Regions from separate parts of the Homo sapiens genome. Here all the other regions are linked to region 2. The links come from fine-mapping of genetic effects on plasma protein levels. A gene starts in region 2. Each other region holds a variant in brackets. All regions are shown on one strand. Distances are between the middles of the regions.

The links. PIP is the posterior inclusion probability: the model's chance that the variant is causal. Sun 2018 read protein levels with aptamers (SomaScan).
Region 1: its variant is fine-mapped to the plasma level of the KDR protein (Sun 2018, PIP 0.95). The variant lies in the coding sequence of KDR. If it changes the protein, the assay may bind it differently, which can mimic a change of level.
Region 3: its variant is fine-mapped to the plasma level of the KDR protein (Sun 2018, PIP 0.95). The variant lies in the coding sequence of KDR. If it changes the protein, the assay may bind it differently, which can mimic a change of level.

The regions. Positions count from the first base shown.
Region 1 is chr4:55,096,651-55,108,499 of GRCh38, forward strand. It overlaps KDR (kinase insert domain receptor), which reads right to left. Exons shown (of 30, transcript NM_002253.4): 10 at 11,087-11,243; 11 at 10,037-10,160; 12 at 9,182-9,290; 13 at 7,993-8,334; 14 at 5,712-5,858; 15 at 5,247-5,378; 16 at 2,047-2,153; 17 at 1,487-1,622; 18 at 1,012-1,116. Among named protein-coding and RNA genes, the nearest start is that of KDR, 23 kb to the right of the region's middle. The variant A/G (reference allele first, on the strand shown) is at 10,129.
Region 2 is chr4:55,124,502-55,135,978 of GRCh38, forward strand. KDR (kinase insert domain receptor) reads right to left here and starts at 1,094. Exons shown (of 30, transcript NM_002253.4): 1 at 726-1,094. The coding sequence starts at 792. RefSeq lists an enhancer at 8,161-8,774.
Region 3 is chr4:55,112,502-55,115,499 of GRCh38, forward strand. KDR (kinase insert domain receptor) reads right to left here. Exons shown (of 30, transcript NM_002253.4): 4 at 2,780-2,910; 5 at 2,373-2,541; 6 at 1,625-1,764; 7 at 803-980. Among named protein-coding and RNA genes, the nearest start is that of KDR, 12 kb to the right of the region's middle. The variant C/T (reference allele first, on the strand shown) is at 890.

The DNA.
Region 1 (11,849 bases), 28 kb before region 2:
GATTTTTGCATTTCAGGTTCACTATGATTCTGAGGGTCTGATCATTTCAGCACTTCCTCATAAGGAAGCAACACCATGTATTAAATATCTTCACGTGTTAGGGGCTATACCGAATGTTCCAGCCAATCTGTGCCGATCTGTGCAGGCGAATTAAGGCCAGCTGGAAAGACCAGTTGGCACATGAGGCTGATGGCACTAAGACTATGTGTTTGATCCTGTATGGACTGCTACACTTCCCACTAATTCACAGGCATGGTCCACATCTAAGGCTCTGATGAGCCACCTCAAAATTACACACTCCCTTGGCCACAAGAGAAAAAAGGCAGATGGAGAAAGATAGCTTTGAAATGCACAAAACCTATTGGCAAAGGGTCATTGGCACTGCCTTCATCAATGAAAGAACATCACAATTGAAGAAAGAAGCTTTACTGTCTAACCTCCTAAAATGAAAATGGCCAGACCAGAATTCCGTTACTATTAGAATTAACAATTATTTATAAAGCTTTTAATTTAAAAAATATAACCCATTATATTTTTTTCTAACACAACCATTCTTGTTTTGCAAATTATCTTTTACATATGAACATCTTTTACATATTCCAATTCTGGAGAACATGCTATTTTTGTATTTCACTATCTTCCTTTCCATGTCTCTAGATGGTCTATAATTATCTGATTCCACAATATATTAAGAAACAATTTTAATATAACCACAGTCCTTTTTCCCTGTACCCAGAACCACTAAGTACAACTGTGTTGGCTGAGCCCTGCACGAGGGTAACCAGGCAAGAAGGTGAAAGCCATTCCCAACTTTGCTTGCCAGACCATGCATCCTGGCATAAAGCTACAAAGGAGGATCCTTTTTCCAATTTGCACAAGGGCATTATTTAGGCTGACTGCATGTGTGGCTAGTAGGCCCACATAAGCACAAAGCTACTGATACAAGCCTTGCAACATATTTAAAGACTAGATAAAACAGAAAGATAGATCACCACATAATTTTGCTTTTACCTTTCAACATTTTGACTGCTACTGTCCTGCAAGTTGCTGTCTTGTCAATTCCAAAGGCATCTGCTTCAATCACTTGGCCAAAGGCACCACGGCCAAGAGGCTTACCTAGAGTCAACAACAACAGCAACAAGAAAACAGACTTGGATTACTATACAACCAAAGTGATACGCAGAGACATCAACTAGATAGGGTGACCATACATCCCAATTTAACATGGATAGTCCAGTTTACTCCTTTGTCCTGGCTTAATTATTTAATAACTCCCCCTTCACTCTCCAAATGTCCTGCTTTGGATGATTACATAGGGACCCTACCTCTAAGTGGCTATATGAATGATTATACAAATTCAAGAAATGGAATTAATATTTCTAAACCAGAATCCAACATCTGAATACACCACATTTGTCATCATTCTAATGGAGGAAGAGATGGCCTGGTAAACACAATATCAAATTAATAGCAATTGAAAATGCACCTAGCTTCAGCCGGTCTCTGGGGAATTCCCATTTGCTGGCATCATAAGGCAGTCGTTCACAATGTTCATCCAATGGGAGTTCATCTGGATCCATGACGATGGACAAGTAGCCTGTCTTCAGTTCCCCTCCATTGGCCTGGAAAGCATCAATCCTTCCAGTCATAAACACACTGTTGTTTGGCTGTTGTTTTGTGTGCTTGTTATTGCTGTTTATTGGAGCCTCATTCCTGTCTCATTTTCCAATAAAACTCATGGAGTTTGAGAGTGGTCCTATTATAACCCTGCTTCTAGTTTCCCTTGTCCCCCAAAGGAGCTCAGAATTAAGGTTTTAAAGCTTAATTACACTAGACAGTCCAAGCCCTTTTCCTCTCTAGTGGCTTCTATCAATTAAATCCCTGAGATCCAGCCAAAAGAAAGTGGGCAGGAACGTTATTGTATTGAAATAAAAATGTGCCCATTGAGCCAATAACAATGGGAAGAAACAACTCAAAGAACCCCAGTCAGTTTTCATTAATCATGAAAACCAATGTGCATGGGCAGAAGGGAAATTATTTTTTTACCCGCTTAACGGTCCGTAGGATGATGACAAGAAGTAGCCAGAAGAACATGGCAATCACCGCCGTGCCTACTAGAATAATGATTTCCAAGTTCGTCTTTTCCTGGGCACCTGGAAAGACACAATTGAATGAGTATCAACAGTTGGAAACTTATACTTTTTGTTTGTAAGATGACAAATTTTAGCACTAAAGCAAAATCCCAAGCTTACCAACTTGGAAAAATCCTAGAGGACAACAGTTACACACCCGTAACTTGAATGGAGTCTACAGAATTCTTTTTTTGAATTTAATTTATTTATTTATTTATTTATTTATTTATTTATTTATTTATTTATTTTTAGAGACAGGGTTTCTTTCTATGTTCCAGGCTGGAGTACCATGACACAATCATAGCTTATTGCAGCCTCCAATTCCTAGGCTCAAGCGATTCTCCCCCCTCAGCCTCCCGAGTAGCTGGGACTACAGGTGCATACCACCAAGCCCAGCTAATTTTTCTTTTATTTTCTGTAGAGACAGGGTCTCACTACATTGCCCAGGCTAGTCTCGAACTCCTGGCCTCTAGCCATCCCCCCTGCCTTGGCCTCCCAAAGTGCAGGGATTACAGGCATAAGCCACCACACCTGGCCTACAGAATTGTTAATGGAAAATTTAAAGCTTGCAAAACATTGCTCATGTAAACTTACAACAATAAAATTCTTAAGTAATTAAGCATAGAAGTAGTAATGTCTTAAAAGCCAAACATAGAAAGTGTTTAGAGGAAGAGCAGTCTTTGATGGAAAGAAAACAGATCATTCTCTACAGAGAAAAAAAAATATTTCTATTTGAGGAAAACAAAAGTCTTCTTTTAAACTGATAGTCAATATTTTGATCTGTGCAGAGTTTGCAAAAGGATCACATAAGAAACCAAGTAGGGAAATAAACAAAATTTTTTGACCTGAGAGTTACTAATGACCATGTATCTACTATGCACTCATCACTTTAAATATGCCATTCCACTTAATCTCCTCAACAACTCTCAGTTTTCAGATGAAGAAACAGAAGACCAGAGAGCTTAAGCTACTTGACTGAGGGCACACAGCTAGTCAGTGGTTCAGTCAAGAGATAAAGAGGCCTGTCCAACATGAACTAACCATTACATACACTACCCCATCCCTTGTGGCAGGAGTCTGAGTGAGGAGAAGAGGAAGAGCCAAGATGAGCACATCACGCATGGCCTGGTAATGGGAGTTTCAAATCACTCATGAAAGGAAAGAGAAGAGGAAACTAGAAGTCAGCAAGCAAAGCTGCAGATGCTCAGGGCTTCAGAGGACAGCTCTGAGTGGAAGAAACAAAATACAGAAACAGGCTTTCCACTAAGAGTGATTAGCAAAGAGATGATAAGGAAGCAGTCATCACTTGGGGCCTCCCATCAGAAGAGTGCAAGGAGAATCAAACCGGGCCACAAGCTGTGCGGATGGCCCACTACGGCCTCAAGAGAGAAGAAGACAAGTAAGAAACTGGTTTGCAAAATAAGTAACAAATTGGTTTGCAAAATAAAAGTTAACTTAACCATTGAGAGACAAGCACAATTATGCTTGGAGTAAATTTTGTTTCTCTGGTGGTCCTAGGGAAGTAATTCTCTATTTATACACACAGATTTAAAAGTCCAGTTGAACATAGAGGATAAAAAGTTCAAAGAGTCTGTTTTCTATGTGTTTGTATATTAATATTCTCGCATAACATTTGGGAACCCAGCAGGAGTATTAAATATCTAGCTCTGCCTTTCTTAGCATTCACTCCAGGTAAGAAGTAACTATAATCTCTGTGCCAGTGTTACCTAGTTAGGCATCTGTAACCAGCTGCAGGCCACCAACAAGAGGTAATGCAGAGCATCAGAGACAATCTAGACGTCATTCTGCGGATTTGCCCTAAAACATGAATCACTTTGGAAATGACAAAACCGCCATGGTCTTTGAAATCTTTATTTGCAAGTGTAGTTTATGAAATGCTAATAAGCTTATACATTTGAAAATATGTCAACATATCTCGATGCAATACTTGGCATCATAGATTTGGCAGAGTAAAGGGACCAAAATCTAGACTTTGAGAGACAAGTTAGGATGAGTTCATAGAAATCCATCGATCCCTTCTATCACCATACTTCTTTCTTACCCTTGCATACCATTCTTTTACCCCACAACACAGTTTTATTCTTTCCCTGGTGGGCTATAAAAAAAAAAGCCATAGGAATATACTTCTTAAGATAAAATATTCTGCCACAAATTACTTTTCCTAGCTAAGAAAATGACAGATTTCACATCACTTCTGCATACACACGTATTGAGATAAAAACCAAAAATTTTCCATGTCAGAAGAGCAATGGTCTATTGTTCACAAGTGAATCTTAATTATCTCTAGTCCAATTAAAACTCGGAATCCTTGTGACTATCTGGATAGCATTGACTGCCATGATTAGGCAGCAATTCTAATGTTTTTCCAAATAAATATAAAGGCATCATTTCTATAAGTTAATCAAGCCATTCAAACAAAGACAGAATCAGGGAGAAGAGGCTATTCATCCTGCCTGATTAAGAATTTTTCCACAATAAGAACTGCAGGAATAGGAAATGTGATGCAAGCAGAATTATAACAACATTAATTATGTTTGCTGGTTAAAAGAATACATACTCACTGAGAAAATTTACAAAGTACAAAGAATATTAAAAATCATCTGTCGTTGCCCTATTCAAAGTGAATGTGTGTCTATAAGATACAAACTAATCTTCAAAAACCACAGGATGTATCTATGACTTCCCACTGACCTTCTTTTTTTCTTTTAAGTTCCGGGATACATGTGCAGAATGCTCAGGTTTGTTACACAGGTAAACATGTGCCATGGTGATTTGCTGCACCTATTAATCCATCTCCTAGGTATTAAGCCCAGCATGCATTAGCTATTTTTCCTGATGCTCTCCTTCTCCCCAACCCACAGTAGGCCCCAGTGTGTGTTGTTCCCTTCCCTGTGTCTATGTGTTCACATTGTTCAGCTCCCACTTATAAGTGAGAATGTGTGGCGTTTGGTTTTCTGTTCCTGTGTTAGTTTGCTGAGGATAATGGCTTCCAGCTCCATCCATGCAGCTGCAAAGGACATGATCAGATTCCTTTTTACGGCTGCATAGCATTCCATGGTGTATATGTACCACATTTTTTTTTATCCCACTGACCTTCTATTATGAAAAATGCCTCCACTTTTGCACAGCCAAGAACACTGCATGCCTGGCAGGTGTAGAGGCCTTCGTCCTCCTTCCTCACTCTGCGGATAGTGAGGTTCCGGTTCCCATCCTTCAATACAATGCCTAACAGAGGAAGAAAACGATCATTCTCATTTATGATGATGTAGTCTGTGAAGTTTTTCAGGGAAATTTAGAAAATATAAATGCTGCCCTTCATCTTGTTCTATTATCTAACTCTGTAGAGTCACATGGGATCTACTGCTGACTAATCTCCTATATGGCTTTCATGAAAATTCAACAGGGCCCCATACTCCAATTCTAAGTCTGTGAAATGAGCCAGGTCATGGACACCAATACTGCTTTTTTTCTACATTACATCAAGAAATAATATGGCTTTTTAGATAACATCCCTGGGAAAGTTCTGCAACCCAAGAGTGATAGCCAAATTCTATTTACCTGAGTCTTCTACAAGGGTCTCATTATCTTTAAACCACATGATCTGTGGAGGGGGATTCCCAGATGCCGTGCATGAGACTTCGATGCTTTCCCCAATACTTGTCGTCTGATTCTCCAGGTTTCCTGTGATCGTGGGTGCCACACGCTCTAGACACACAAAAAGAAAATCACAGAACATGGAATTATAACTTTTGAAATGGTTCTGGTATCAGCAAACTTTTAAACAGTTTAAATTTAGTAAAAAGGAACTTGTTGATATATTAACTTCTGGGAAAATACACTGGTCACTGGGTAAAGTTAAATGAAACAAGTCAGTCAGGACACTGCAAACAGATTAATGGCTTTTAACATTCATATTAGTGATACTAGCTGGTAATCCCATCACAAAAGAAAGGTTCAGGGTCACCTTTATGGATTTTTCCTCTAATTAGACACAGCCTCCCCAGGTGAAAACTTCCCTCCCATGAAGATTCTAGTCAATAATACCCTAGAATCCCTTCAAATTTCTCTTGGAAGTGCCAAATTTTAGTATCATTCAACCAATAATGCCTTACATTTATTTGGCAATTCTTATAAAACTTGTTTACACAATTTGTGTTCCTCACTAGTGATCTTATGTAATGAGCAGAATAGGACTGTTAGCGTTATCTCACAGATGAAATAAATGATGTTCAGCGACATTAAACCACTTGTCCATGTCCCTGCAACTAAGTAAACAGTTGAACTGTTTACAGAATCTGGTGAGGCTAAAAGACCAGTTCAGTGCTATTTCCACTAAAACACAAACAAAACAACAATACCCTAAGGGAAGTCTTGGATTTAAAGAAAATGAAGCCCATGAGTATTTGTTTAAGTGTACAAGAACACTTTAGATTTATTCTTTCTTCAGATCATCAAAGTGCTGTGGAAATATCTTGTCCCAACCAACTGAACATCAAAAGGAATCATGCTGAAAAAATCCACGTCAACACTTAGCAAAATGAGATTACCTCAACAGCGTACTACATTGAAGTCTAAGCAAATGTACTGGATTCTAGCCTATTTCTAAGAATAGGTTTTAGGAAAACAAGTTAGGAGTCCTTAGGGAAGCAAAGCAGCTAACTGCGAGCACATATTTTCTGGGCACAGCTAGGCCAGGAGCCTACTTCACATCTCTTTCTCAATTCTGCCATAACCTTGAAGCCAGACAAGCCAACAGAAAATCCATGTGATCTATGTGGTGTGACTTGAAGGATGCTGGGGATGACTTGACCCCAAAGTATCTCTTATTATGACACCTGAGTCTTAAAACTAGCGAACTTTATGCTAGTGTCTGTCAGAAGGTGCCTCTTCAAATACGCCAAGGCCTCTGATGAAGACGTTACCCTCTAAAACTGTGGTATAGATGAATTTACTTGGGCAATTTCCTTCCTAACAGTAAAAAAAAAACAGAGGGCACATATATCCTAGGAATTGGAAAGGGACACCACAAGAGGAGAAAATGGAGAGAAGTGGCACAAAGAGACGCTCCCCAAATTTGCCTGATTTTCCCACAGACAAAGCCATGGCTGCCCAGCTTTTGCACAAGGCATGAGGTTAGACAAGGGGTAGACAGTGCCTCTATGGAGGAATTTACAGAGCTATCTGCTCACTGAAGTGATCGTCCCATTGACCTTGGGCTACGCTGGATCATGTGGGATGACCCAGAGGTACAGACAGTGAATGTAGCTTCCTTCCCATGGAGTCTTCTAGGTCTTAAACGCAGCCCATCATCCCACTCTTCATGCAGCAGGTGCCTTATTGAGCAGTTAGTATATGCTGCTATGCTCTATGACTAGAGCTATAGCAGGGAGCAAAACAGAGAACAATTCCTGTTCTCATGGACACAGAGACCTCACTGTGCTGTGACTTCCCAGTGGTTGCCTATGTTCTCCTCCTTTCCTTCATGTTTACCACTGTGAATTTCTGACACTCTCCTAGCTCATAGCAGGCATTCCACAAATATTTGTCTATTTAAATAAATGGATGCCCAAGATAAGGCAGAAGTTTCCCTGGTTCAAGCTAATATCCCTTGCATATACTAGTGAATTACTCCATCATCAGGTTTTGTTATTTTCTCCTTTCGATATATCATTTCATTATTATTAGCTTCTTTCTTCCTCAAGGACTTTCGGTGAAGAAGTGTGCACCAGTTTACAACATAATCTCCTAGAGGACAGTAATCTTTGCATAGCACCTGAATTGCACTACATTTAAGGCATTCCAACTGCCTCTGCACAATGATCCAGAATTGTCTCCCTACCTAGGACTGTGAGCTGCCTGACCACGCAATGTCTTTTCTTGGTCTTCCTGTCTTGAGCAAGGCAGACATAGTCTCCTTGGTCCTGCAAGGATGCATTCTTAAGCTCCATGATCAAAATGTCATTTGTGCTATTAGAGAACATGGTGGCATTCAATTTCCAAAGAGTATCCAAGTTCTTGCAAACAGGTGTGGGCAACTCTCCCACATGGATTGGCAGAGGCTGTGGGCCAAGCTTGTACCATGTGAGGTTCTCAAACGTAGATCTGTCTGCAGTGCACCACAAAGACACGCTCTCCTGCTCAGTGGGCTGCATGTCAGGTTGCAAAGTAATTTCAGGACCCCCTAAAATGAAGAGGCCATAGTTATTGAATGGTGATTTAACTTGGTACAGCTCACTATCATCTTGCTGCTTTCAGACTACTACAAAGTACCAAAAGAAATGAAGCTCTATCCGTTCCAGGTGATGTACTACAACTTGACAAACAAACTAGACAATTCAGGTCCCAAAATATCTTATTTGGCCAAACACATTACTTGAAAATGTAAACGAATTCCTCAGATATTTACCACATCTCCACTATGAGCTCTACGCAATGTTTAATATATTAAAAATCCAAAGCAAAATCTCTAATTCTAACAGAATTTTAAAATTAGGTCTTCATTAACACTAACACTCAATGATATGAAAGCTACATTTATGCCAATGAATTAGCCCTGGCTATAATATTCCATTCAGCACAATCAGCTAAAGCTTATCCATAAAACTAAGATGCACAGGCAAAATCGGCAGCATTGGGAGGGCACTGCTCCTATGTCCTTCTGATTGCCTCCATAAAGCCCACCCTCATCAACTGTTCCACAGCAAGCCCACCAATATGTACTGAAGCTCAATAAGCCAGGCACTGTGCCAGACTCTGAAGACTGAGATGTAAATACCACACAGAGCTTGTGGTTTAAAGCATCTGTGAAACCATTCTCTCTCCAGTGTAGTTAGACGCACTGACTTCACATAAGCCCAGGAGATACCTGAGAAGTTGTAATTTATGAATGAAAGCATCAATGATCAATCCAAGTCCTCTTTCCTAAATGCCATGCCACTCACATGAATGGCAAAAACAACAGGGAATTACATAGCTTAGTACCCACTGTGTGAGTGATCCAACCCAAACCTCCAGAGAAGAGTACTTACTGGTCACGTGGAAGGAGATCACCCTCTCTCCTCTCCCGACTTTGTTGACCGCTTCACATTTGTACAAAGCTGACACATTTGCCGCTTGGATAACAAGGGTACTTACAGTCTGTGCGGGGAAAAAACAAATCCCAGGCCATAAACAACGCGGCTGTTTGTGCACAAGCACTCAGTCCAGCAGTCTCCACAATCACTCCAACCTGCCTATGCCATTCCCACTTCTGCAGCGGTTGGACACGCTCAAATTTATGCAATTGCAGGTTGAGTATCCCTTACTCAAAACGCTTGGGACCAAAAGTGGTTTGGATTTTGGATTTTTTTTTTTGGATTTTGGAATATTTGCATTGTATACTTACCAGTTGAGCATCCCTAATCTGAAAATCCAAAATGCTCCAACGAGCGTTTCCTTTGAGCACCATGTCGGCACTCAAAAAGGTTCAGAATCTGGAGCATTTTGGATTTGGGGTTTTTAGGTTTGGGATATTTACTCAATTTGTATAATTATGCTGCTGTGGAGCTCACACATTATATAAAAAGGGCTTTGGAAGCCATGAAACTAATGATGTGTTTTAATATGATATGATACACATTTTTTCATTCTCATGTTTATAAAATCAGAATCACCCTACACAGATGCATAGATTTAATGTCATAGATGTTTTTATTTTTCTCTGATAAGCTATTAATAAGTTAATGGTACTGCTAAAAGTCAATGGTATTTTCAAAGTGACTTAATACGCTCTATTTAATCATCCAGACTATTTGATTATTAATCTCCAATATGCCTCACATATTATTGTACCATCCTTCCATTAAAGAGAGAGAGATTTTCAAATTTTAAAACTTCAAACTCACTTTGTTTTTTCCTTCAATTAGAGCAAATTGATTTTTATTAACTTCAATTTTATTTCCTCCCTGGAAGTCCTCCACACTTCTCCATTCTTCAC[A/G]AGGGTATGGGTTTGTCACTGAGACAGCTTGGCTATAAGAAAGAGATAACAGCGCATATTATGATTTAATTTTTCTTTAATTAGAGTCAAGAGTAAGGAAAAGATTCAGACTTTGGTTATTCTGTTCTTAGAAATAACTTCCAACGCAGCCTACCATGGTACAAGACTTGGCGCCAATTAAAAATAGGCATTGACAATGAAGGAAAAGGTTCTAGGTAGATTCATTCAGGATACAGGAGGGAAGCAGCTATTCTGGGAATAAACCTTCATTCATAAATTGGATCGACAAGACAATTCAAGTTAATTTAGTTCAAAGGAAGGCAAGGAAACTTAGAAGCCACTGGGCTCCTTAAAGTAATTTCTCTGGGACCATGGTCTCTGTGAAGGAAATGATCAGCAGCTGAGGAAGAAGCTCATAGTGGCCATTTCAAAAACAACAACAGGAAGTGGACTGCTTAGGGTGGTGGTGGGTTGGCTGCTGTTGTTGTGTTTTTCCCTAAGGATGTCTGGACTTGTGTCAGAGCATGATAAGCTGGGCCTGAGACCCTGAGGACTGGGGCTGGGTCTATCACTGCCTCTCATCTATCAGCATTTCCTCTGAGAGATGGATCTTCACACACACAAGAAGGAGGGATGTGGTATTCACCAGCCGATTGGTATCGGGAGAAAAACCAAAGACTGGCAATTAGCAAACTGAGCAAATAGCCTGTGTTTGGAGAAGTGTACCTCACGGCTAACCTAACAAGGCTGAGCTTAGCTAACCCCAAAGGAGGATACTCCAAGCAAAGACATCCCCTAAAATGTAAGACACAGAGAAAGATGGATGGAGATTCAGGCTACCTCTTGAGAGAAAACTTTTTTTGGTTTAGGCTTCTCCATTTAGGATGGAGTCATATCATAGCTCAGCTGTAAGAAATGCAAGATGGCAGGAAAGCAAAGAGCATGTGGCCTTACTCACCTGGGCTCGTTGGCGCACTCTTCCTCCAACTGCCAATACCAGTGGATGTGATGCGGGGGAGGAATGGCATAGACCGTACATGTCAGCGTTTGAGTGGTGCCGTACTGGTAGGAATCCACAGGAGAGATTAGAGATTTCTCACCAATCTGGGGTGGGACTGAAGATGGGAAAAACAACTTTTGAATTGTCAGTCAGCTTTGAAGAATGGGAAATAGAGGATTTTAGCAACTAAAGCTGACTTTCTTTAAGCATATGATTTTGCTTCCACTTTCTTTTTCGAAGAACACCTAGATGTGGAAACAAGAGACCTGAGTTCTAGTGATACTCATAAAAATAACAACTAGCCAGGCATGGGGGCTTATGCCTGTAATCTCAGTATTTTGGGACGCCAAGGTAGGTGGATCGCTTAAGCCCAGGAGATCAAGACCAGCCTGGGCCACATGGTGAGACCCCATCTCTACCAAAAAAAAAAAAAAGGAATAAAGTAACGAAATAAAATAAAAATGACAATAAGCTAATAATAATAATAAACTAACAAGCTGAATGACTTTATGGAAGTGTTGAAATCCTGTGCCTCTCATCTGTATTACAGAGATAGTTCTCTCTGTCCTCTCAAGTTTAGGAGATCAGGGAAAGGCTACAGAAAACAGCTGAAATAGCACAGTAAATACATTTATTATGTGCCAAGCATTGTTTGAAGTGCTTTGCATGAATTCATTCACTTAATCCTCACAACCACTATTACTGTCCACAGCTTTATACG
Region 2 (11,477 bases):
TACACCAAGGACCACAGCGCTTTGAAAGATGTGCAATGCTTTACGCAGGACAGTTGGCTGTTACTTGGAGACCCTTGGGGAAGCTGTCAAAGCCCCCAGGACAAGTCCCTATTCCCCCCCTTCTTCGCTCTGCAAGGAGAGCGGCGTCCTGCACCAAGGAAGGAAAAAAAGTTTCTCTCCGCTCCAGACCCCACTTCACACAGTGGTGTGCAAGTGTGTTCGAGCATGAAGACAACAACGGGCCGGGTCCCGCAAAGAGGCAGAACCGAGTGTACCGTCCGATCCGGGAGACCCGGCCTGAGATTCCGGCAAGGTTTTCTTCCCCGGGCCCGGACTAGGATGTTGCGCGCAGCCAGACAACTTTTCACCGCCTGTTCTCGCCTGCGGAGGCACCTCCTGCCTGCCAACCCCAGGCGCCTTCCCACCCCAGCCTCCCAAGAGCCTGAGGGTGTGTCGGCATCTCAGGACATGCTCCAGCCGAGGTCCCTGTCGCAAACCAGAGTCCTAGAAAAGGAACTGGGCTAGAGCACAGGCGACCACAGACTCGCTGGGTAATCTTGGGCCAGTCTCTGAGCCTCAGTTTCCCCACTGGTAAATGAAAGATCGCAAAATGTCAAGTCCTGTCCAACTCTCCAGCTCTACGATTCCGAGTTAGATCTGGCTTTCAGGTCCTCTCCGCCCTCACCCGACCTGTCTGCCTTCCTCCTCCAGAGTGGGCTCCTTACCCACAGAGGCGGCCCGGGTCTCCACGCAGAGCCACAGGGCGACGGCCAGCAGCACCTTGCTCTGCATCCTGCACCTCGAGCCGGGCGAAATGCCCAGAACTCGGGAGCCGGTTCTTTCTCCCAGCGCCTGTCTAGAGAAGGAGGCGCGGAGGTGGAACTCGCGGCACCCCGCAGCGCAGGACAGTTGAGCGCACAGGGCTAGGGAGCCCGGGCGCCGACCGCGGCTGCAGGGGCGTCTGCGGGTGCCGGTAGGAGAGGATATCCAGGCTGCCAGACGGACTTTCTGCGGCGCGCAAGTGATGCCCGGCGCAGGCAGAGGAAACGCAGCGACCACACATTGACCGCTCTCCCGGGGTCCCGGGACTCAGTGCAGGGTGGGAGCTGGTGCCGAAACTCTAGAGCGCGGAGGCGGGGCCATGCGGGGCGGGGCCGGAGCGGAGGAGGGGCTCTCCCGTGCGGCCAGCCCCGCCCCTCACCCGGGTACCCGGCGGCGATCTCCAGCTCCCCAAGCCCATTTACATCTCCCCATTTCCCCACACAACTGGACTGCGCTGGGCCCCAAGTCGCCCAGGAGAGAACATCCCAGAGCAACAACTTTGTTTCTGGTGTAAATAAAAAGTACTCGGTAACGGGCGCTGAGCAACTCCAAGATTTAATCGCTTGCCGGTCCCCGAAATTTGGGGAGCATCACCAGGAGCGCTGCGAAGAGCAGCGCTCCCTCACCAGGCGCGTCAAAGTGCAGGACCCTCTTCGCCATCGCGCGCGTCTGAAGTGGCCGAGAATCTGCAGCAGTTTGGAGCCACAAGGGAGAAGCGGATACTCAGCCAAGTATGCCGGGTCGCAAGCTGGCAGCGACTCCTGCCAGTAGTTTTGGTTTTTGTATAAGGGTATTTTGTTTGGCCAGTATAATTGTAGTTTAAAAAGCTGAATCTGGTTGCTCTTAATCAGAAAACGCACTTGCCCAGTTCGCCAACATTCCCGCTATTTCCCAAAATATTTGGCGGCTCCAAGTTTGAAGTGACCTGCCTAGCCCCAAGAAGGCTTTTGTCCATCGTGCTCCCCAACGAAGAGCCCTAGTGAAAGTTTGGCCATGCCCCTTTTCAGAGCAGAGCTTCCAGCCAAGATATCCTTAGTCCCAGGGGAAGGAGGCCAGCTGCCAGCGTGCTTCAGTGGAGGAGCAATGAAGCAAAAGCACCTAGGACACTCTGTGACCAAATTGCACAACTGTCTCCACGTGTGTGGACTTCTTGTGGCAGCTGTTTGGAGGGGAACTCCAATTCCTTCCTGACCACATTCGTTCCTTCTGGTTTTCTGTCCATATCTCCCCACACCTGGGGAGTGACATCAAATGTCCCCTAACTTCATTAAATATGAATCTTCCAGATGCCTATGTCTTTTACCTCCCAGAGGTGCTTTTTAATGACAACCTAAAGGACCATTCTTCACCAAGATAAACACACAGAATTATTATATCTACACCTAATTCAAACTAGATTGATTGTATACAATTAATGTAACCTGTTACTTATCTTCATCTGTTTTTAAATATTTACTGTATTCACGCTTTTACTTTTCCAAGTTGACAGGTGAAATATTTTAATGCTGAAATATAATGAATGTATATGGCAAAAAAAAATTTTGGAAAAACACAAAAAGGCTTAGAGTGAAAAGACTTTTCTTTTGGCAGAGGCATTTTTATGTTTCCTTTTTTTTCCAAGCAGATTCTTAAACACAAGTATGTAGACATGTCACCCTTCTCTTCCCACAATTGCTTGGTATAAATGCTATTTGAGCCTTGGCTTTTTTCCCTTTAAATTTGATTTATTTATTTGAGACAAGGTCTCACTATGTTGCCCAGGCTGGTCTCCAATGCCTGGACTCAGTCCATCCTCCTGCCTCAGTCTCCCAAAGTGCTGGGATTACAAGCACGAGCCACCCTGCCCAGCCTTCACTTTATAATATACACTGGAGATTCGTTCTACATCAACCTTTAAAGCTCCATCTTTTATTTATTTATTTATTTATTTATTTATTTATTTATTTTTATATAGAGGCAGGGTCTCACTATGTTGCCTAAGCTGGCTGCGAACAAAGCTCCATCCTTCCATCTTTTCAATGTTGGCATAGTGCTCTACTATATAGATGTACTCATATTTATCTGGGAGGTATTTATTTGGGGAGGGGAGAGAATCTTTAAAGAAACTCCTCTCTTCCTGCTAGTAAACTCAGCAAATAAAATAGGATGGACTCTGGCAAAGTTGGATAAAGGGGTGGGAGATGGAACCTGGTTTGGAGAGGGCAGTTTTTCTCCATCCCCATCACCAAACAATTCCCTATCAGCCTTATTTACAGTTCATGACACTTCCTCTTCCATGTCTCATTTAAGAAGATAGTGTCTCCTCTGAATGCAAACCAGAACCTGCAGGCCCGTGGTAATAGCCCCCTTTAGAAGTCTTGGAGGAAATGATGCGTCTTTGATGGCCGCAAGACCAGAATTTGGCAGAGTCTCAATGAAATCAGTCTACCACATTCCCTCCCACACAGCACTTAGAAGTGCCTTAGGTTCACAAAAAAAATGGCAAAGTCTGTTAAAAAAAAAAAAGATAGAAAAGAAAGAAAGAAAGGCTGTTCCATGTGCAGCACCCTCTCGTTATCTGGCATTGCAAAGGAGTGACTTTTGTGAGTTAACCCAACAGTAAGGCACCTAGCAAAGTGCCCCAAATGTGTTGAGTGTTCCATAGATGCTATTCAGATGCCACAGCAGAGTAGTAGCTAAGTGCACAGACTCTGGATTTTATTCCCAGATCTACCGCTTATGATCTGTGTGATCTTTACCAACTTACAAGTAACTTATCTATGAAACACAAAAAAAATTATAATAGTACCTTCTTCATAGGGTTCTTACAAGAATTAAAGGAGTTACTGCATGTAAGGCACTTGGAGTAGGCCCCAACACAGCTAGTAAAGATCTTGGACATAGAAAGCACCAGATACACATTAAGAAACATTCTGCAAAGGTTGCTTATACTACAATGCATGGGCTTCTTCATGCTGCTGAGATCTAAACTGCTAAGCAGGCTCATTCATTCAACAGTTTTTGAGCACCTACTATATGCTAGGCATTGAACCAGGAACTGGGGTTACGATGGTGAAAATAATGTCAAGATGAGCTTAAATGAGGAATCATTGTAATAGCCTCACCCAAGACAAATTTAATTTAATCTTTAAGCACTTCTTGTCTCCAGCTACTTTTCTGGGCTTGTACATACAGAATATACATTGTTCATACTCAAAGCACACTGCATAAATTACTCTCCATGATCTCCAAATTTGGTTACATTACCAACAGTATTTTGGACTCCATGTCTTAACAAGTTATATGAAGATTTGTCAAAGGTTAATAACTGTGGAAGTTCAATTGCTTCAAAGAGAATAAAATACCCAGGAATCCAACTTACAGGGGATGTGAAGGACCTCTTCAAGAAGAACTACAAACCATTGCTCAATGAAATAAAAGAGGACACAAACAAATGGAAGAACATTCCATGTTCATGGATAGGAAGAATCAATATCGTGAAAATGGCCATACTGCCCAAGGTAATTTGTAGATTCAATACCATCCCCATCAAGCTACCAATGACTTTCTTCACAGAATTGGAAAAAACTACTTTAAAGTTCATATGGAACCAAAAAAGAGCCTGAATTGCCAAGACAAATCTAAGCCAAAAGAACAAAGCTGGAGGCATCATGCTACCTGACTTCAAACTATACTACAAGGCTACAGTAACCAAAACAGCATGGTACTGGTACCAAAACAGAGATATAGACCAATGGAACAGAACAGAACCCTCAGAAATAATACCACACATCTACAACCATCTGATCTTCAACAAACCTGACAGAAACAAGCAATGGGGAAAGGATTCCCTATTTAATAAATGGTGCTGGGAAAACTGGCTAGCCATATGTAGAAAGCTGAAACTGGATCCCTTCCTTACACCTTATACAAAAATTAATTCAAGATGGATTAAAGACTTAAATGTCAGACCTAAAACCATAAAAACCCTAGAAGAAAACCTAGGCAATACCATTCAGGACATAGGCATGGGCAAGGACTTCATGACTAAAACACCAAAAGCAATGGCAACAAAAGCCAAAATTGACAAATGGGATCTCATTAAACTAAAGAGCTTCTGCACAGCAAAAGAAACTACCATCAGAGTGAACAGACAACCTACAGAATGGGAGAAAATTTTTGCAATCTACTCATCTGACAAAGGGCTAATATCCAGAATCTGCAAAGAACTCAAACAAATTTACAAGAAAAAAACAAACAATCGCATCAAAAAGTGGGCAAAGGACATGAACAGACACTTCTCAAAAGAAGACATTTATGCAGCCAACAGACACATGAGAAAATGCTCATCATCACTGGTCATCAGAGAAATGCAAATCAAAACCACAATGAGATAGCATCTCACACCAGTTAGAATGGCAATCATTAAAAAGTCAGGAAACAACAGGTGCTAGAGAGCATGTGGAGAAATAGGAACACTTTCACACTGTTGGTGGGACTGTAAACTAGTTCAACCATTGTGGAAGACAGTGTGGCAATTCCTCAGGGATCTAAACTAGAAATACCATTTGACCCAGCCATCCCATTACTGGGTATATACCCAAAGGATTATAAATCATGCTGCTATAAAGACACATGCACATGTATGTTTATTGCGGCACTATTCACAATAGCAAAGACTTGGAACCAACCCAAATATCCATCAATGATAGACTGGATTAAGAAAATGTGGCACATATACACCATGGAATACTATGCAGCCATAAAAAAGGATGAGTTCATGTCTTTTGTAGGGACATGGATGAAGCTGGAAACCATCATTCTCAGCAAACTATCGCAAGGACAAAAAACCAAACACCACATGTTCTCACTCATAGGTGGGAACTGAACAATGAGAACACATGGACACAGGAAGGGGAACATCACACTCCTGGGCCTGTTGTGGGGTGGGGGGAGGGGGGAGGGATAGCAGTAGGGGATATACCTAATGTAAATGACGAGTTAATGGGTACAGCACACCAACATGGCACATATATACATATGTAACAAACCTGCACATTAAACCTAGAACTTAAAGTATAATTTTAAAAAAATTAAAAAAAATAACTGTGGAAGTTGAACAGTGGTACTTAAAGATTCATTTGACTATTCTCTCTACTTTTACGTGTTTGAAAGTTTCCATGATTAAAAAAAAAAAAATCTGTTTTAAATGACTGTAATCAAAGGGATGCCCAGGCCAATACAACACTAACTTTTCCATTGTCTTTTCCTTGATTTGGTGAAAATAAGGATTTGGAATGTCCTTGAGCATTATCTTTTAATCATTTCAGGCAGCAGCTTCATCATTTGTCAATGAAAATAATAATTCTTACCTACCTTAAGGACTGTTACGAGACTCAGATGAGATCATCTCATGGAAGTGCTCTATAAAGTGTAAAATGGTGATGGTGGTAATAAGGATTCAATAGATGTTTAATTTTCTTCCTTAAAGTACTTGTTACCAAGGCCTTTCATCAGGTGTCTTCCACACATACCTTCATCGCCTAAGAACATCAGCTGTTCAAAAATATTTCCTGGCCAGGTATGGTGGCTCATGCCTGTAATCCCAGCAGTTTAGGAGGCTGAGGCAGGAGGATTGCTTGATGCCAGGAGGCTGAGGCTGCAGTGAGCTATGATTGCACCACAGCATTCCACCCTGGGTGACAGAGTGACACACTGACTAAAAAAAAAGATAGTATTTTCTATATTTCTTTGAGATATAGATATAGATATAGAGAAGAGATACATGGAGACATACATGCATAATAGAAAATTTTGCAGAAAATATCTAGAAGGGTACACACCAAAAAAATACCTACCTTGGGGAAATGATTGAGGCACAGAGGCAGAGGGATGAGAACATGTACTTTTTGCTTCATATATTTCTATAATTTTTTTCAAACCAAGAAAGTATTACTTTTACAAATAAAAAATATTATAAAAGACATCAACTCTCTTTTCTAGGGGCTGTTATATTTTTAAATATGACCATTTATTGATTACATGTTTGCATTGACAACTTTGTCATGTTTACTGTATTTTTCTTTCCATGTTCATTTATTTTCAACTTACCAGAGCCTATGACTACCTCACCAGATGTTGGCTCAGTTTCACAGCCCATCCATACTTACAACTATTGCGACTTGGGAGATCATGAGCATACCCTTTGTTTCTCATTATCTACCTTCTTTAAACATCTAAGTTTATTTTACTCCTTGTGAGATTTATTCATTTAACTTAAGCTATATTTGTATGTTCAAGAAAAAGAAGGCTATGTCACCACAAAGCCAGGCCTGCCTTGAATGTGTCCAACAGTGTTCAATTTTATTCACAAAGCCTTATATTCTAGTAAATATAAAGCAAACTCTCCATCCTTTTAGTGAAAGAGATTAAAGAGAACTTGATTACTTGCTCCCTGCAAAGGAAAAAAATCTCAGTTACTATAAACACGTATAACTATGTTCCAGTCCCAAACTCTCCCGTATAATTTCTTGGAATATCTCACATGAGAATAGATACAATAATTTTTAAATGTGTAAAATATGCAAAGAATTTAAATAACCAACTGAAAGTCCACACAGCACCAGAGAAGGGTGCTAAAAAATATTAAGAGCTAACACTTTTTGAGCACATCATTTGAGCAGGCTCTGTTCTGAGTACTTTATTTCTCATTTCATCCTCATAACATCCCATGAGGTGGCAAGCACTATTAGTATTCCTTAGAAAGAAAAGAAGTAAAGAGAAAAAATATTTATTCTTAATTTAAGTAAATGTCCCTTTGCCTTCCTAAAAGTCTTGCCCAAAAAAAAAGTTGTTATATCTCTTTGTAAATAATCAATGAAGTTTTTTCATCAATAATTAGGAATATGGTAAAAAAAAAAAACAGGGCATTCTTTGCTTTTTTCAATAACAATAAAAAGAAGGGGTAGATTTTTGGAGCAGTTACTATGTGTCAGGTATTTTCCTTGGATTATCTTATTTAATGCACATAATAACTCAATAGAAAAGATACTATAATTATTCCCATTTAAGGGAGATGGGAAAATGAGGTTTAGAAAGTTTTTTTTTTTTTTTTTTTTTTTTTTTTTTTTTGAGACGGAGTCTCGCTCTGTCGCCCAGGCCGGACTGCGGACTGCAGTGGCGCAATCTCGGCTCACTGCAAGCTCCGCTTCCCGGGTTCACGCCATTCTCCTGCCTCAGCCTCCCGAGTAGCTGGGACTACAGGCGCCCGCCACCGCGCCCGGCTAATTTTTTGTATTTTTAGTAGAGACGGGGTTTCACCTTGTTAGCCAGGATGGTCTCGATCTCCTGACCTCATGATCCACCCGCCTCGGCCTCCCAAAGTGCTGGGATTACAGGCGTGAGCCACCGCGCCCGGCCGAGGTTTAGAAAGTTTAAGTAACTTTTCCAATGTCCCATAACTGTAAGTGGTGGAATCAGGACTTAAAAGCAGAGCAGTATTAAGCACCCAAAACAGACCCCTCCTAGCACATACAAATAGCTTTTTGTTTTTGGTTTTTTGTTTTTTTGAGGACTAATCTCATTCAAGGCATGAGGCTAAGTGAATTGATGCCACTGACTTCCTCTGCCTCTCCATAACAATAGCTTCCATTTTCCTAGATGCATGAAAAGCTAAGTGACTTAGAAGAGGCACTCTGAGATGGCTGACCAAGGAAGAATGCAAAGCAGGTAATTAGATCTTGCCCTCCCCACCTGCAGAATCCCAGCCGCATTGAATATTTACCTTCCACCCAACCCCCAAACCACAGATCTTCTCTTCAAAAAAAAAAACAACAAAAAAAAAAACAAAAAAAAGGAGCAGTTGCTTCTATACAAATAATCACTTGCGCATTTGGGGCATTTCTTTTCTACCATGAATTTTTGTCATTTGTCCTCCTGGACATACCTTCCATACCCAGTGCAAATATCTGTCCCAAGTGATATGTTTTGTTTTTTTATTCAGCTGTCTGCTTCAATTCAGACTCTTCTAGGAGAAATAGGCAAAGGTAAATCTTACCTGAGCAAGTAGTTAAGTTTGGAAGGATAGTTGGTAAGGTCTAATAAAAACGGTTAAGGACATGATGATGGTGCCTATTAATAAAATCTATTTTGTATACTATAGACTTATTGTGTTATGTCTAATTAAATAAAGCTATTGTAAAGATACTTGGGTTAATGTTATATGTGCTAGCTATATAAAATGTACTTTATATGATTATTCTTAAATTCAAATTTAGATAATAGTCATCCATTTAATAAATATATCCAGTTATGCTGAATTTATACTTGATCATTGACAAATTAATGTGGACTATTTTGTTATTCACAGAACTAGGAAATTATTTTCCTTTTCCTGTACGCACATAGCACTTATGCAACATCTGATAGCATAATCACATATTTATTCAAATATTTCTCCCTCAAATCAGGGATTAGGTCACATTGATTTTGTATTCTCCGTGCCTAACACAGTCCCTGTGCATATTCACCTCTAAACACAATAATGATGTCCAAGTTATTTTTGTTATTTCCATTTCTGCTGCTATTTGTTCCTCCTTTGCTTTTTATTTTTCCAGAATCACATGCCTCTTGACTATTCATTGCAAATGTCTTTACAGAGAGCAACTTGTGGGAATAAATGGAACCATACAATGTCAACATAGACACAACGGAGTGAAAGAGTTAGTTCTTAATTTATTAAGCAGTGGGGATTGAAGATTTTTGTTTTTGATTTTGAGTACAATGAAGAAAAAGAAATAAAGCATTTACAAGATTTGCATGTACTATACAAGAAACGTGTGATTGAAATGTTGCATCTGTGTCATTTGCAGACTCGTAACCATTTTCCAGTGAATTAATACCATCCTCCCCCTTTAAGCCTATCAAGTTTTCAAAGAACTGAATAGTGCAAAAATATACTTTTGGTTCCCAGAGAAGTGCTACAGATTACCATTCCCATATAAGAAGAATGTATACACTTCCAGGTTAGTTGAATTAGTTTGCAATACTGTTCACATTTTTAGAGACTAAAAATAATGTTTCCTGGTAATGCCACTTCACCAGTGTTGAGAGCAAGTCAATGACAGCAGAAAAGTTTTATGTTCTTTGTATATAAATTTAGTCTCCAGAGTTTCCAAAACATTGGTGAATAGTCCCTGGAGGCATAAATAAAATTTTTTTCTTTGAGCAGTGTTTCTGAACGTTCATTTCTAATATATCACTGCCTTGCTTCACTTAATTAAAAAAAAATCTCCGCAAGGAATGCCTCACAAAGAGAGAAATTTCAAAATAAAATGAAAAATACAACTTTAGATCTAATTGATAATCATCCAATAATTGGTCAGGCTGGTCATAGGCAGATGAAAGGCTGTAAGGGAGTCATTTCATGCATCTGATCACATAATATAAATAAAAGATCCAGCTGTGGAGAAAATGATTCTAGTAACAAAGCACCACATCAAAAATATTCCACATTAAAATGGTCTTTGGATATATAGAAAAATGCTTCTATTTCCTTATCCTAAGAAAACTTGACCTTGCTGCTCCCTGAAGCTACTTAGTAGTCTAGTACTTTGACCTTTCCTTCAAACGAGTTCTTGAAAGATAAAAGGACATCCCTCACCTTCTCTCCTCATGTACAATAACTTCTTACTCTTGACTCTGCCCAGCATCTCCACAACAGACATCCCATTGTCCACCCTCTTCTTGAACTTCCGTCTTTGTTGAAGCTTGAAACATTCATGGGTACACTCCTACCTACCAGCCAATGCCCTTCACTGGCTGACATTCCTTTGCTCAACCCTAAACATAGGGATCGCCAAATCCATTCTTGGTCACCATCCCTTGTACTCTTCCATGACTTTCTCAGGAATTGTATTTCCTCTTTTGCCTTTGACTATCTTCCTTATGGAGAAAACTTGAAAAATTGTGCTCTCCAACTCTGATTTTCTACCCTAGCTCCAGCCTCTAATCTCTAATTCTTCCTGGACATCTCTGTGTATGTTCCACCAATTTCTTAAATTCAAAGTGCCAAAAACTGAATTCTTTGTCTGTTTATACCCACCCTGCCTCCTTCAGCCTTCTTAAGCTCGAAGTCCCTCTAGATGCTTATACTACATTCCATGATATCCCCCTGCCTTTTCTTTTCCTCTCAAATCCAATTTTGTCTACATTCTTTACTTCCCTCATATCCATCTCCTATTTTCATTCATCAGACTGCCCTGACTCGTGACCAGTTTGCCTTTTTCCTGGAATATTCCAGTCCACTCATCACTCTGCTGCCAAAGTTATCTTCCTAAAACACAAAGTTCATCTGTCCTTCACCTTGGACAGTTGACCTCTGTACATAGCATAAAGCCCCAAATCCCAAGCCTTGTATTTAAGGGTTTTGTTCTTTGCTGCTTCCTATTTATACAACTTACCTCCCGGTATACCGTGGACATACTCTTAGTCCAACTTTCTAGATTTCAGTGGCCACCTCCAGAAAATGCATTACACTTTTTTGTCTCTTGCTTACTGTATGCCTTGAATGTGCTTTATTCCAATATCTGCCCATACGTAGTTGGCCCCTCTTTAAAAAGAGGCCCCAGGAAGTCTCTGCAATCCCTACTCATTCCCATCTCCCCATCTGACTTACT
Region 3 (2,998 bases), 16 kb before region 2:
GAAGTCAAAAGTTATACCTTGATTTTTTTTTTTTTTTTTTTTTTGAGAAGGAGTTTCACTCTTGTTGCCCAGGCTGGGGTACAATGGCACGATCTTGGCTCACTGCAACCTCCACCTCCTGGGTTCAAGCAATTCTCCTGCCTCAGCCTCCTGAGTAGCTGGGATTACAAGCTCCCACCACCACACCAGGCTAATTTTTTGGATTTTTAGTAGAGATGGGGTTCCACCATGTTGACCAGGCTGGTTTCGAACTCCTGATCTCAGGTGATCCACCCACCTCAGACTCCCAAAGTGTTGGGATTACAGGCGTGAGCCACCGCGCCCGGCCTATACATGGATTTTTGACTGCAGAGGAGGGAAAGTTAGGGGAACTCCCCTGAGTTCCCCCAATCCCTGAGTTGCTCACAGGTCAACTGTATATTGCTAAATGTTTCCCCAGTTTGCAAAGCTCATGCTTATTCAAGTAGGCCTCTCAGCCTTGCAATAAAATGAAAATTTAAAAACTACCTTAGCTAATACTATTTATCATAGTAACAATCCTAATAGCAGCAATAACTATAATAAGTAATACTAAATGAACTCTTACTGTATATCAGCACATCTCATCTTTAAAGTTGAGGTTTGAACCCAAGTTCCTGACTACAAAGCTATGCTCTTGACCTCTAGGTCATGTGGCCTCCCTAACAAGAAAAACTAGAAACTATCTTCTGAATGAACAAAATAGGAATCACTAAGTGACCTAAATTTATTTAAATTATCTCACTTGTCAAGGCACAGAATAATTTCCAAGACCATAGCTTACCATGGACCCTGACAAATGTGCTGTTCTTCTTGGTCATCAGCCCACTGGATGCTGCACAGGTGTACAATCCTTGGTCACTCCGGGTTA[C/T]ACCATCTATAGTTAAGGTGCTCAAAAATTTCTTCATCTCACTCCCAGACTGGGTTTTTAGGTCTCGGTTTACAAGTTTCTTATGCTGATGCTGAAAAAAAGAGTTGACTGAACTTCCAAAGCACAGCATATAACATTACCCAATAACTTCTAGTAACACACAGAATTAAATCTGGGCTTTGGTAAACATTATTTAATGCTAAAAACAGGGACACCAGAACTTTTAACCTCATGCAGACAACAAATATATTTTGTTTCAGGAGAAATAAATGGAACCAACTGAATTAGGATTTTTAAAACCTCACGTGGTGAAAGTGAGATGGATATAAACTGCAGAAACACAAGTAAATGTGACCACTGTTTAAGGAGCAGTGTATCTCATGCCACCTCTTAAAGAGAAATTCCCTTAAAAGGAATGTAGATCAAAAACTTTGGAGAACAGAGAAATGACATAATGTGGAAAGATGTAATCACCTAGAGAAAACTAATATTCATAGCCTGGCTATTGCAGAATAGGACAAAATTCCTGGTATTTCACCTTTTGGTGGGTGCTATCTGTTCTGCAATTCCCTTAAATTGTGTGTGTGTGTATGTGTGTGTGAGTGGGTGTGTATGTGTGTGTGTTTAAGGCTCTTACATTTTATCTGGCCAAAGAGGCCCCTATCTCTCAAGCAAACTTCACTGGGGCTTATTATCTAAGTATTTGGAGGTCTGGCTTTGAATCATTAGCGTTACCTTCGAAGAAGGGTATTCCCAGTTGAAGTCAATCCCCACATTTAGTTCAGTTCTTGCTGTACAATTTAAGACAAGCTTTTCTCCAACAGATAGTTCAATTCCATGAGACGGACTCAGAACCACATCATAAATCCTATACCCTAGAGCAAGTAAATTGAAAAAACAGAACATGAGAGAGCAAATAAGCCTATAACTTTGCACAGATTTATTTTTTAAAGTAATGCAACTTTAAAACATGCCACATTGTTTTTCCCTGCAGGCCTCACCAATACTTGGTAGCTCCCAGGAAAATGGCCAACAGAGGTTTACAAAGCACTACCTTCACAGATCTCAAAGATGTTGTAACCCAGTGGACAGAAAAGTAGTAAACTTTCAGTGGTCAGTAGCCCTAGGCCAGTAGGGCCAGCTTTAGCAAATTGCTGAAGTTTCCATAAAATAGTCATAATTGAAATAATTGATAGCAAGCAATGCTCTGAACATTGAATTCTTCATAAAATGTGCTCGAGTAATACCATTCGCTTTCATCCTTTTTTTAAAAAGTTTTCTTTTTCTTCCTTAATCTTGGCAAGAAAAGAGACAACCTCAATTGCACATGGGTTTATTTGGTAGAGAAGAGCAGATGAATTGCCCAACACCATATCCTGAGTTCCTATACTTTTCAATATCCTTCTTCACTCTATGTTGTTATCTCCAAGATCTTAATACAAGGATATGTTATTAATGATATGGAAAGGAAATGTCCTCTTACCTACAACGACAACTATGTACATAATAGACTGGTAACTTTCATCATTAATTTTTGCTTCACAGAAGACCATGCCAGCATAGCTGATCATGTAGCTGGGAATAGTAAAGCCCTTCTTGCTGTCCCAGGAAATTCTGTTACCATCAGGAACAAATCTCTTTTCTGGGTATCTCTGGGTAATAAAAAGACATATCAAATATTTAATCCAGTACCAAAAATGAGAGCCATGTACAATGATCACTGAAGAATTCATCTTATTTTTAAGAATACTAATTAGTTTTATTCATTGCATTTGACCCTTCCTAAAGGATCCTTAAAACTCATTGTGAATATTATAAACAGGTTACCCATCTTAATATTAGCTTAAAATTATAAAAACTTAAGAGACGATTGGAGGAGATGCAACTTACTGCACAAAGTGACACGTTGAGATTTGAAATGGACCCGAGACATGGAATCACCACAGTTTTGTTTTTGTTCTCAGTAATGTACACGACTCCATGTTGGTCACTAACAGAAGCAATAAATGGAGATCTGTAATCTAGAAGAAAATTTAGTTTTATTAATGAGTTAATAGTATTTACTAGAAAAGTTGGTCATTTTTCAGGTTCCTAAACTCTAACCAGACA